Regions from separate parts of the Homo sapiens genome. Here region 2 is linked to region 1. Evidence: fine-mapped expression QTL. A gene starts in region 1. The other region holds a variant in brackets. All regions are shown on one strand. Distances are from middle to middle.

Region 1 (4,382 bases):
TTTTTTTTTTTGAGACGGAGTCTCACTCTGTTGCCCCGGCTGGGGTGCACTGGCAGGATTTCCGCTCACTGCAACCTCCACCTCCCGGGTTCAAGCAATTCTCCTGCCTCAACCTCCTGAGTAGCTGGGACTACAGGCATGTGCCACCACACCCCGCTAATTTTTGTATTTTTAGTAGACACAGGGTTTCACCATGTTGGCCAGGCTGCTCTCAAACTTCTGACCTCAGGTGATCCGCCCGCCTCGGCCTCCTACAGTGCCGGGATTACAGGCGTGAGCCACCACGCCCGGCCGTGCTCTGCCAGTCTTAAGAGGAAATTCCTGGTCCTGCACACTCAACAAAAGCAGAGAGCAACTTGGCAGGACAGACAGCATGCTGGGAAAAGGAGGCAGTGGCTCCGGGATCAGAAGTGGCGGGATTTTTTGTTTCAGTCTTGCAACCAACTTTCATTGAGCAATGACATAGTGGAGGGCGAATAAGATCAAAGGGGCTGTACTTGGTATGGAAAAACCACAGAAGGGTGGAAGCTAAGCACCTTCGCCTTGAGAGTTGGGTCCATCCATACCTGAAATGGACCCCTGTGGACCCTTGACGAACAGGGCAGTGGCCTAGACATTCTCGTGTGTCTGTCACTCACCAGCTGGGGACTTTGTCAACTCATTCCTCTGTCTAAACCTCAATGTTCTGCTCTGGGAAATGAAATCAAAACTGTTAGTCCTCCCTCCCAGGGTAGTTATAAGAATTAGATAATATGTGAGTGAGTAAGCATTCTAAACACCATATAAATGTGGCTAGAAGTATTATTCACCAGTATGATCTAGTATTTTTGGCCCTCCTCTTCCCCTAAAGCGGAAGTAGGGCCGGGCGCAGTGGCTCACGCCTGTAATCCCAGCACTTTGGGAGGCCGAGGCAGGCGGATCACTTGAGGTCAGAAGTTCGAGACCAGCCTGGCCAATACGGTGAAACTTTGTCTCTACTACTAATAAAAAATTAGCTGGGTATGGTGGCACATGTCTGTAATCCCAGCTACTCAGGAGGCTGAGGCAGGAGAATCGCTGGAACCTGGGAGGCAGAGGTTGCAGTGAGCTGAGATCGTACCACTGCACTCCAGCCTGGGCGACAGAGCCAGACTCCCTCTCAAAAGAAAACCCAAAAAAGCTGAAGTAGGACTACGTCAAAGGCCCACCTGGGCAGGCTGGTCCAATACAGGACAAGGGACCTAAAGATAGATGGTATTTCATTTGGACCTGCAAATGAGTAAGAATGCCAGCTCCGGGTCTATTAAAAACCCCGCTCGGATGTCTCCCACAGGCAGAGCTGAGGTGGGGCCTTGCCTGAGGCTTCCAGGGATGCGCTGGCTTCCCTTCCAACCTCCTTTTCAGACAGCTCTGCCCATTCAGCGGTTCCTAATGCAGAAAGAATGGGCTCCCCGGAGCCTGCCGGCTTCCTTACAGGTCACCGCTAATGCCCTGTGACAGGCCCTTGGCCCACCCTGCCAGGCGGGCCTGGGCATCCTCGCGGCGGCCCATCCCTCGGGGCCGATTCCTCCGCAGCCATTAACAAAGGGGGTCTGGGGACTGCCTCGGAACTAGGGGGCCGCGTGGAGTGGGATGTCTAGGCCAGGGCCCGCCAAGGAGGAGCGGCCGGCTCCCGCCTCCGGGCCTGGGCAGGCAGCGCTAGGGGCCGGTCGGGAAGCACGAAGGAGCCCGGCCGTGGGTCCGGAGGCCGCAGTCGATGGGGACAGTTGCGGGGCCGGGGGTACCCACCTTCTGCTCGACGCCCTGCAAGCCCTGGCCCAGCTCCTCCCTCTGCCGGGAGAAGTCCTGGTGGCTGCGCCGGACCTGCTGGACCTCCTCCAGGACGTGGTGGACGCACCAGCCCGAGAAAGCGGCCGCCGCCACCAGGGCGAGGTAGAAGAGAAAGTTGAGCGCCCTGCCGAGCCTGCGCGAGCAGGACGCCGAGGACGAGGCGGCGGCGGCGGCAGCGGCGGCGGAGGCGGAGGAGGAGGAGGAGGACTTGCCGCCGCCGCCGCCGCCGCCGCGGTGGCCGCCCTTGCCGTGCGCCTGGTTCTGCGGGTGCTGCTGCGGGTGCTGCTGCGGGTGCGGCGCGGGCGGCGGCGGCGGCTGCTGCGGCGCCGGCGGCGGCTTCTTCGCCACGTCATCCGCGCCGCCCGACGGGTGGGCACCCTTCTCCGAGGGGCTCGCGGCGCCGTGGCCGCCCTTGGAGCCCCTTTGTTTGGCCGAGGGCATGGCGGGCGCGGCGGCGGCTCGGGCCGCGGGCTGGGAGGCGAGCGAGCGCGGCGCGCGGCCCGGGAAACTTGCAGGGGCTCCCCCGGGACTGGGCGAGCGGCACGCGGGCGCTGCTGGCGTCGGAGCGGCGAGAGGACGCGCGGCCGGGGAAGGAGGCCGGGCCGAGGAGGCGGGAGGAGGGGGCCTGCCTCCGCCGCCGCGGCGCCGACCCCGCCTCCCGGTAAGGGAGGCCGAGCGAGCCGAGCCGGGAGAGCTTGCCACGCACGCCGGCCCGGCGGCCCCTCCTCCCCGCCGCCACGACCCCGGAGAGGGAGGGCCGGGCGGGGTCTACGGGGGCCGGGAAGCCGGCGCGGGGGTGGCTGGGCGCGGGGCGGGGTCCCGGCGGGGTCTGCGGAGGCCGGGGTGGGCACCGAGGTGGCCGCGAGGGGAGGGGAGAAGAGCGGAGCGGAGGGGAGGGGACGCGGCCGAGGTGGGGCTGGCGGCCCGGCGGGTTCCACGCAGGCTGGGGGCGGAGGGCCAGATCGACCCCAGCCGGGGCGGCCGAGCAGGGTCCACGGGGGTCGGGGATGGGCGGCCAGGCGGGGTCGGAGGGACGAAAGCCGGGGTGAACCTGCGCCGCGGGCCAAGCGCGACCCCCTCCCTTCCCGACCTGTGCGGAGAGGAGAGAAATGAAGGGGGGCGCCCAAGGAGCCCTGGCCCCGGGAGTGGGAGTCAGCGGGTGGGAACAGATCGCCCTTCCTTTCCGCTGGGAATTGGGGGACTCCCCCTGCTTTCACTCTCCCAGCCCGCCATGGGGTTGGGCCTTGTCCTTTGCCTTGGGTTTGAAGGCGGAGACAAAAAAGGCTGTCCAAAATCCAGCCAGCTTGGGAGGCATGGTTGATGCGAGTTAGCAAAGATTCTCGACTGTGGTAAGTCTGTTCAAGGGGACGCATTCACCAAGTGTCCCCGTTAGCCAAGTTAGCCTGCTGTGGCCAGCTCTTTACTTTTTCCCCCCGAAGCCCCTTCAGCTCTGTTTTCTCTTTCGGGGTCATGAAGTTTGTCCACGGCCCCTACTCCTGACAGCCTCTGGGATGGGTGCTGCGGAGGCAGCAGCAGCCACACAGAAAGAGGCAGATCAGCGTTGTCACCCCTACTTTTGTAAAAGGAAATCTGGTATTGCCAGGCTGTGTGGTTAGCGACTCACATATGTTCTCGAAATCTCACAAAAGCCCTGTGAGGTAGAAATTATTTTACCCATTTTATAGGAAGGAAATTGAGACTGAGCGAGCCGGCTTCGGATTGGCTCAAGGTCACATATAGTCATCATTCGAACCTCACTCAGTCTGCTTCTTTCTGAAGTCTGTGCAGCTTAATCACTTCAGAATGGGAAGGAAACGGGGGCCCAGGGAAGTTAAGCAACTTGCCCACTCACTCAGTCTAATTGGTGCCGGGGCAGGGACAGAACTCACTCAATTCCACTGCTTTCCCCAGTTTCTGGTGAGTGATGTGTGCCTGGCACTGTGTGCACCTGGCACTGTGTGTAGTAGGAATGCTGTTTCTTCTGTCTGTAACCTCCTCCCAGTTCTGTAAACAAAGACAAAACCATGCCCTGCCCTTAAAGCCTATAGGGTTCAAATGCCACCTCTTTGATGATGCTTTCCCTATAACACCATTTGATACCTCTCATGGGACTTAGCAAGTAATTGCAACGAGAGGCATATATGTTAGTTCAATATAGCAAACCTTTGTTGAGGGCCCACTGTGTGCCAGGTATGTCTCCCCTCCCTGAGGACTGGAAGCAACCATAGTTTATATTTCTCCTTCTTTCTCGCTTTATAAGGTGTTGCTAAAAGCCTCCAGTGAATGAATGAACACTTGTGTGCCTGCCCTCAAGGAGCCTGCACTACACTTGGAGATATATACAGAAACCTGTTGAGGGCTAACTTAGGTAAATTGGGAACATAAATGTAAAGAGATTTGGAAAGCAAACCATTGGCCTGTACATGGGCAGGCTTTGGGGGCAGAAAGACCTTGAGCAGTGCCTTGAAGAATGATTTGCATATGAGGAGAGCAGGGAGGATATTTCTGTGGCGGAAATGGGGTGAGCCCAGGACACCTGTTGGCCATGAGGGTGTGTTCTACATGTAGAGAAG
Region 2 (4,382 bases), 26 kb after region 1:
TGTCAAACAGAAGTGATATCAATAAATATTTGTCAAATCACTGAATGAATATCAATGATACAAAGTTAAGGAGGGTGGATCTTCTGAGAAGGAATGGTATTTTCCATCTTCAAGAAAGGAGATTCTTTGCTCTGTAAACAGATTTGAATGAGGAATTTTCTTTTATAAAAATGACTATGGCTGTGTTATTTTCATAACAGCTGACCTTGGTTCCCAGGCTAAGCTGCCCAGGGGCAAGGATTATCTCTGCAACTGAGCTGAGGTGGCTTGTAGTGGAGCCAAGTTTTGCCTTTGTCAAGCTATGAAGGCAAGGCCTTTGGGAAATTCAAAGCTTCTCTCCATTTCTCTAAGGAAGAAGAGTTCCTCTCCTAAAAAGTACAACCTCTTTGAAGGTTTTGGAAACCTCTGGGATTAAAGGACAACTTGGATCTCTTTCCATTTATCATCTTGACATGTATTTGCATGTTTTCTCCGGAAATGTCTTACATTAGTTCATCCCAAAGGCAACCATGAGGCAGGCCTGGCATAGGCCAAAGGCTCATTCAAGAGGAAGAAGGCAGAATTCATTTACGCATAAGGTGCTGAGCCAGGTATTTTATACTTGACTTCCCATTGACTCATCACAGCCTATTAAGTAGATATTATTAATTTTGTTCGAGGTGAAAAAAAGAAAGAAAAAAAAAGCAAGACTCTGAGAGAGGACCTGCAAACTGGAAAACATAGCCTGAAATCAGTAAAAATAGTATCAAAACCTCTATCTGCTTGAGTCCAAAGTCCATGCTCTTTCAGCTGTGCCCTCAGAGGCTTCCTGAACCCACAACTAGATTCAGCTTGGCATTGCCATCTCTCTCAATCTGCTCCCTACTTACCAGACCAGCTTTATCTGCCACAATTTCCCACATTAGTTGTGCTCCAGCCTGGGCGACAGAGCGAGACTCTGTCTAAAAATAAATAAATAAAATAAAAATAATAATAATAAAATAAATAACGGATGAGTTGGCCAGCAGTGGTGGCTCACACCTGTAATCCCAGCACTTTGGGAGTCTGAGGCAGGAGGATCACTTGAGCCCAGGAATTCGAGACCAGCCTGAACAACATGGCAAAACCCTATCTCTACAAGCAATACAAAAAAATTAGCTGGGCGTGGTGGGTCACACACCTGTAGTCACAGCTACTAGGGAGGCTGAGGTAGGAGAATCACCTGAGCCTGGGAAGTTGAAGCTGCAGTGAACAGTAATCATGCCACTGTACTCCAGCCTGAGTGTCAGAGTGAGACCCTGCTTCAAAAAGATAAATAAATGAGTTCCAGCTGTACATTAAACCTCCTAATGGTACAGCCCAGGCGTGAGTATGTCTTTAGAGCTCCCTAGTCAACAGGTTTGTCCATCCTTGGTTAAGAATCACTACAATATATGGACCTTTTATTCCAGACAAACTCTGCCTGCATTAATGCCTTGTATGTACAAATTTCCTTGCCATTTCCCTTACCAAATTACCTAAACTGAGCAACTCCAATTGCCCTTCAACAACCTTCATCTCACCTCTCCACTGATCAATGTTCTGCCTATTGTCATCTATTCAAATCAATGAAAAAAGGTACAGTTCAGTAAGTGTTCAATGTTTGGAAAAAATAACCAGTGTAGACGCTCAGCTCACCCCACACACTATGATAAATTATAAATAAATTAAATAATTGCATACAAAGTTTCATGACTAGGAAAATCAGAAATAATGAAAATGAATCATATCTTAAAATTTTGCTGAGGAAATGAAATTTCTAAGCATGGAAGAAAAAGCTTGTGTAAAAGGGGAAAGTAGGCCAGATTCAACCACATAAAAATGTAAAACAACTGTATGGAAGAATAAAAACAGCTTATAGGAAAAATATTCATTGTGAGTATGACAAGCAAGACTTAGTGTATTGTTTTCTAAACAGGCCATACCAATAGAGGGTAAGTACTCTAAAGATGGGAATGCTGTCTGCCTTGTTTACTATTATATTTTCTGCATCTATAAATGCTTGGCCTATAACAACAAATGAGTAAATATTTGTTGAATAAAGAGATTTAAAAATAACTTATCCATAAGGTAAATGAACAAAAGATCCAAACATTCACAAAAGAGGAAATACAATTACTTCACATTTAGGAACATATTGCTAACCTCACTTGTGACGTAAGAAGTGGAAATAGGCCGGACATGATGGCTCCCTCATGCCTGTAATCCCAGCACTTTGGGAGGCTGAGGTGGGCGCATCACTTGAGGCCAGGAATTCAAGACCAGCCTAGCCAACATGGTGAAATCCCATCTCTATGCAAAAAAATACAAAAATTAGCCAGGCATGTTGGCGCGCGCCTGTAGTACCAACTACTCAGGAGTCTAAGGCAGGAGAATCACTTGAACCTGGGATGCAGACATTGCAGTGAGCAGAGATCACGCTACTGCACGCTACCCTGGGCAACAGAGTGAGACTCCATCAAAAAAAGAAAGGAAGGAAGGAAGGAAGGAAGGAAGGAAG[G/GAAGGA]AAGGAAAGGAAAAGGAAAGAAAAGAAAAGGAAAGAGAGAAGTACTTAAAATATCAATAGATTATTATTTTTGCCTGTGAAATTAGCTGAGATCAAACACAATAAAGAAAACTCCTGTAATCCCAGCACTTTGGGAGGCCTGGGTGGGAGAACGGTTTGAGCCCAGGAGTTCAAGGCTATAGTGAGCTATGATCTCACCGCGGCACTCCAGCCTGGGTGACAGAGTGAGACTATCCCAAAAAAAAAAAGAAAAGAAAACTATAAAATATAATGCCAAAACACGGGTGAAACAGCTTCTTCATGCTATCCTTGATTCGGCCACTCTGGAGACTAGCAGAAATGGGAACGAGGTTCTGATGGCATTGAGATGGTCACTGTAATGGGATTAGTGGTTTTTTTTTCCTGGCCAGCAACCCTCCCTCCCCACCTCCTGACAGACCCCATGATCCTCAGGCAGTGCACCTACCCTCTGACCCCAGGGGAGAGTACACAATTAAAGACTGGCCAACCTGGCACTGGGATTTTTCAAACCAGCACCGAAGCCCTCCTTCTTCTCTGGTTGGGAATTGGTGAGGCTGTAACTCTGGCAGCTGCTGGCATGACGTCTCTTGAAACACAGAGAGAGTGGATCTGTAGTTGGGAAAAACTAGGTTGGTTTGCAGAGAGAACCCTATTGGCCTTCGTTTCCCTGGTTCTCTTCCTTCCTGAGGTCACGTTCTGTGTCCCTGCTCTTCCCACATGTTGCAGAAGTGAGTGAATCATTTTGCTCTTTTTTACATTTTTCATTTAGTGTGCTAGAGTGGGATTCTCTGGCTTGCAACAGCCTATTGTTAAATGTTCAGGAATTTTGTAAACTGGTTGTTAAATGGTTGGGAGCTTGAAATCAGCCCTGGCGGAAGTATTTACTCTCAGTCTACCGATGGGAGTTTCCAGCCCATGGAACTCTGCAAACACTAAGCACTACAAATCAGGCCTTTTTTTTTTTCTTTTTTTTTTTTCCTGGCAAGCCAGTTGTTAAACATTTACCAACTTTCCTTGAGGTAACTGGGCTGCAGTTCTGTCACCGACAATCCAGAGTATTTTGGACAATGCAGCCAGAGATCCTGAGAACACCTAAATCCCACCTGAGACTTTCATTATCACTAGCTTCCACAAATGAAGAAACTTCCCCCAGGCAGTCCCGAAGGGAGGTGACACCCAGAAAGAGTCTTATTGTTAGCTGGGCTTTAGGCCCCAAACCCCAAAGCAGAATTCTGGTGTGTGAAACTGTTCTGCACAGCCAAGGCTAGACACGTAAAGGTTCAACTTCTCCCCAACCTGAATCTTGGGTGGGCCATTTTGCAGAGAAAGATGACACGGTGCACATCTATCAGAGCTGTATGCGACGAAGCCACAGAGAAAGAGACCTCAGCAGAAAATGCATTTGCCTCTGAGCTTAGCAAGGATCTACCCGGGCAGGAGTCAGACCCGCTTGCTGCATGGGAGAAAAGAGAGCCAAGGAAAGGCCCAGGCTTCCTTTAAGGGTCCATGTTCTGGGTCAGTTTTCATCTGGGAATGCACTCAACAGATTGGCAGAGAAAGGAGACACTGTATCCGTCTCCAGACTTCTTTCTGCCCAGTGACCCCGCCCACGGTAAAGGTAACCCAACAAGCGCCTGGGCCTCTGGTCAATCATATTCCTCCTCTTCCTCTTCCTTCACTTGGAAACGAGGAAAGAAAGAAGGGGCTCAGAGAAGCAATTGGAGATAAAAGCTCCTTCTCCACGTGCCTTCGGAATTATTTTGGCAACACTAGGAACATTAAAATTGCCCATACTTCTTCATTTCTGGAAATCATTTCTAAAGAAATAATACAAAATAAAGGA

Direction of the effects. Alleles are on the strand shown, and positions count from the first base shown. SD is a standard deviation of normalised expression in the study named.
As copies of GAAGGA replace G in region 2, the expression in lymphoblastoid cells of the gene that starts at base 2,419 in region 1 goes down (moderate effect, 0.47 SD a copy in TwinsUK).

Evidence for each region. PIP is the estimated chance that this variant, and not a neighbour inherited with it, causes the effect.
Region 2: its variant is the best candidate, but not a certain one, in a credible set for the expression of CKAP4 in lymphoblastoid cells (TwinsUK, PIP 0.82).

The regions. Positions count from the first base shown.
Region 1 is chr12:106,245,602-106,249,983 of GRCh38, forward strand. It overlaps CKAP4 (cytoskeleton associated protein 4), which reads right to left and starts at 2,419. Exons shown (of 2, transcript NM_006825.4): 1 at 1,768-2,419. The coding sequence starts at 2,250. LOC124903008 (a long non-coding RNA gene) reads left to right here and starts at 2,671. Exons shown (of 2, transcript XR_007063443.1): 1 at 2,671-3,158; 2 at 4,070-4,382. RefSeq lists silencers at 1,565-1,654, 2,315-2,624, 2,655-2,994.
Region 2 is chr12:106,271,523-106,275,904 of GRCh38, forward strand. No RefSeq gene overlaps it. Among named protein-coding and RNA genes, the nearest start is that of CKAP4, 26 kb to the left of the region's middle. The variant G/GAAGGA (reference allele first, on the strand shown) is at 2,519.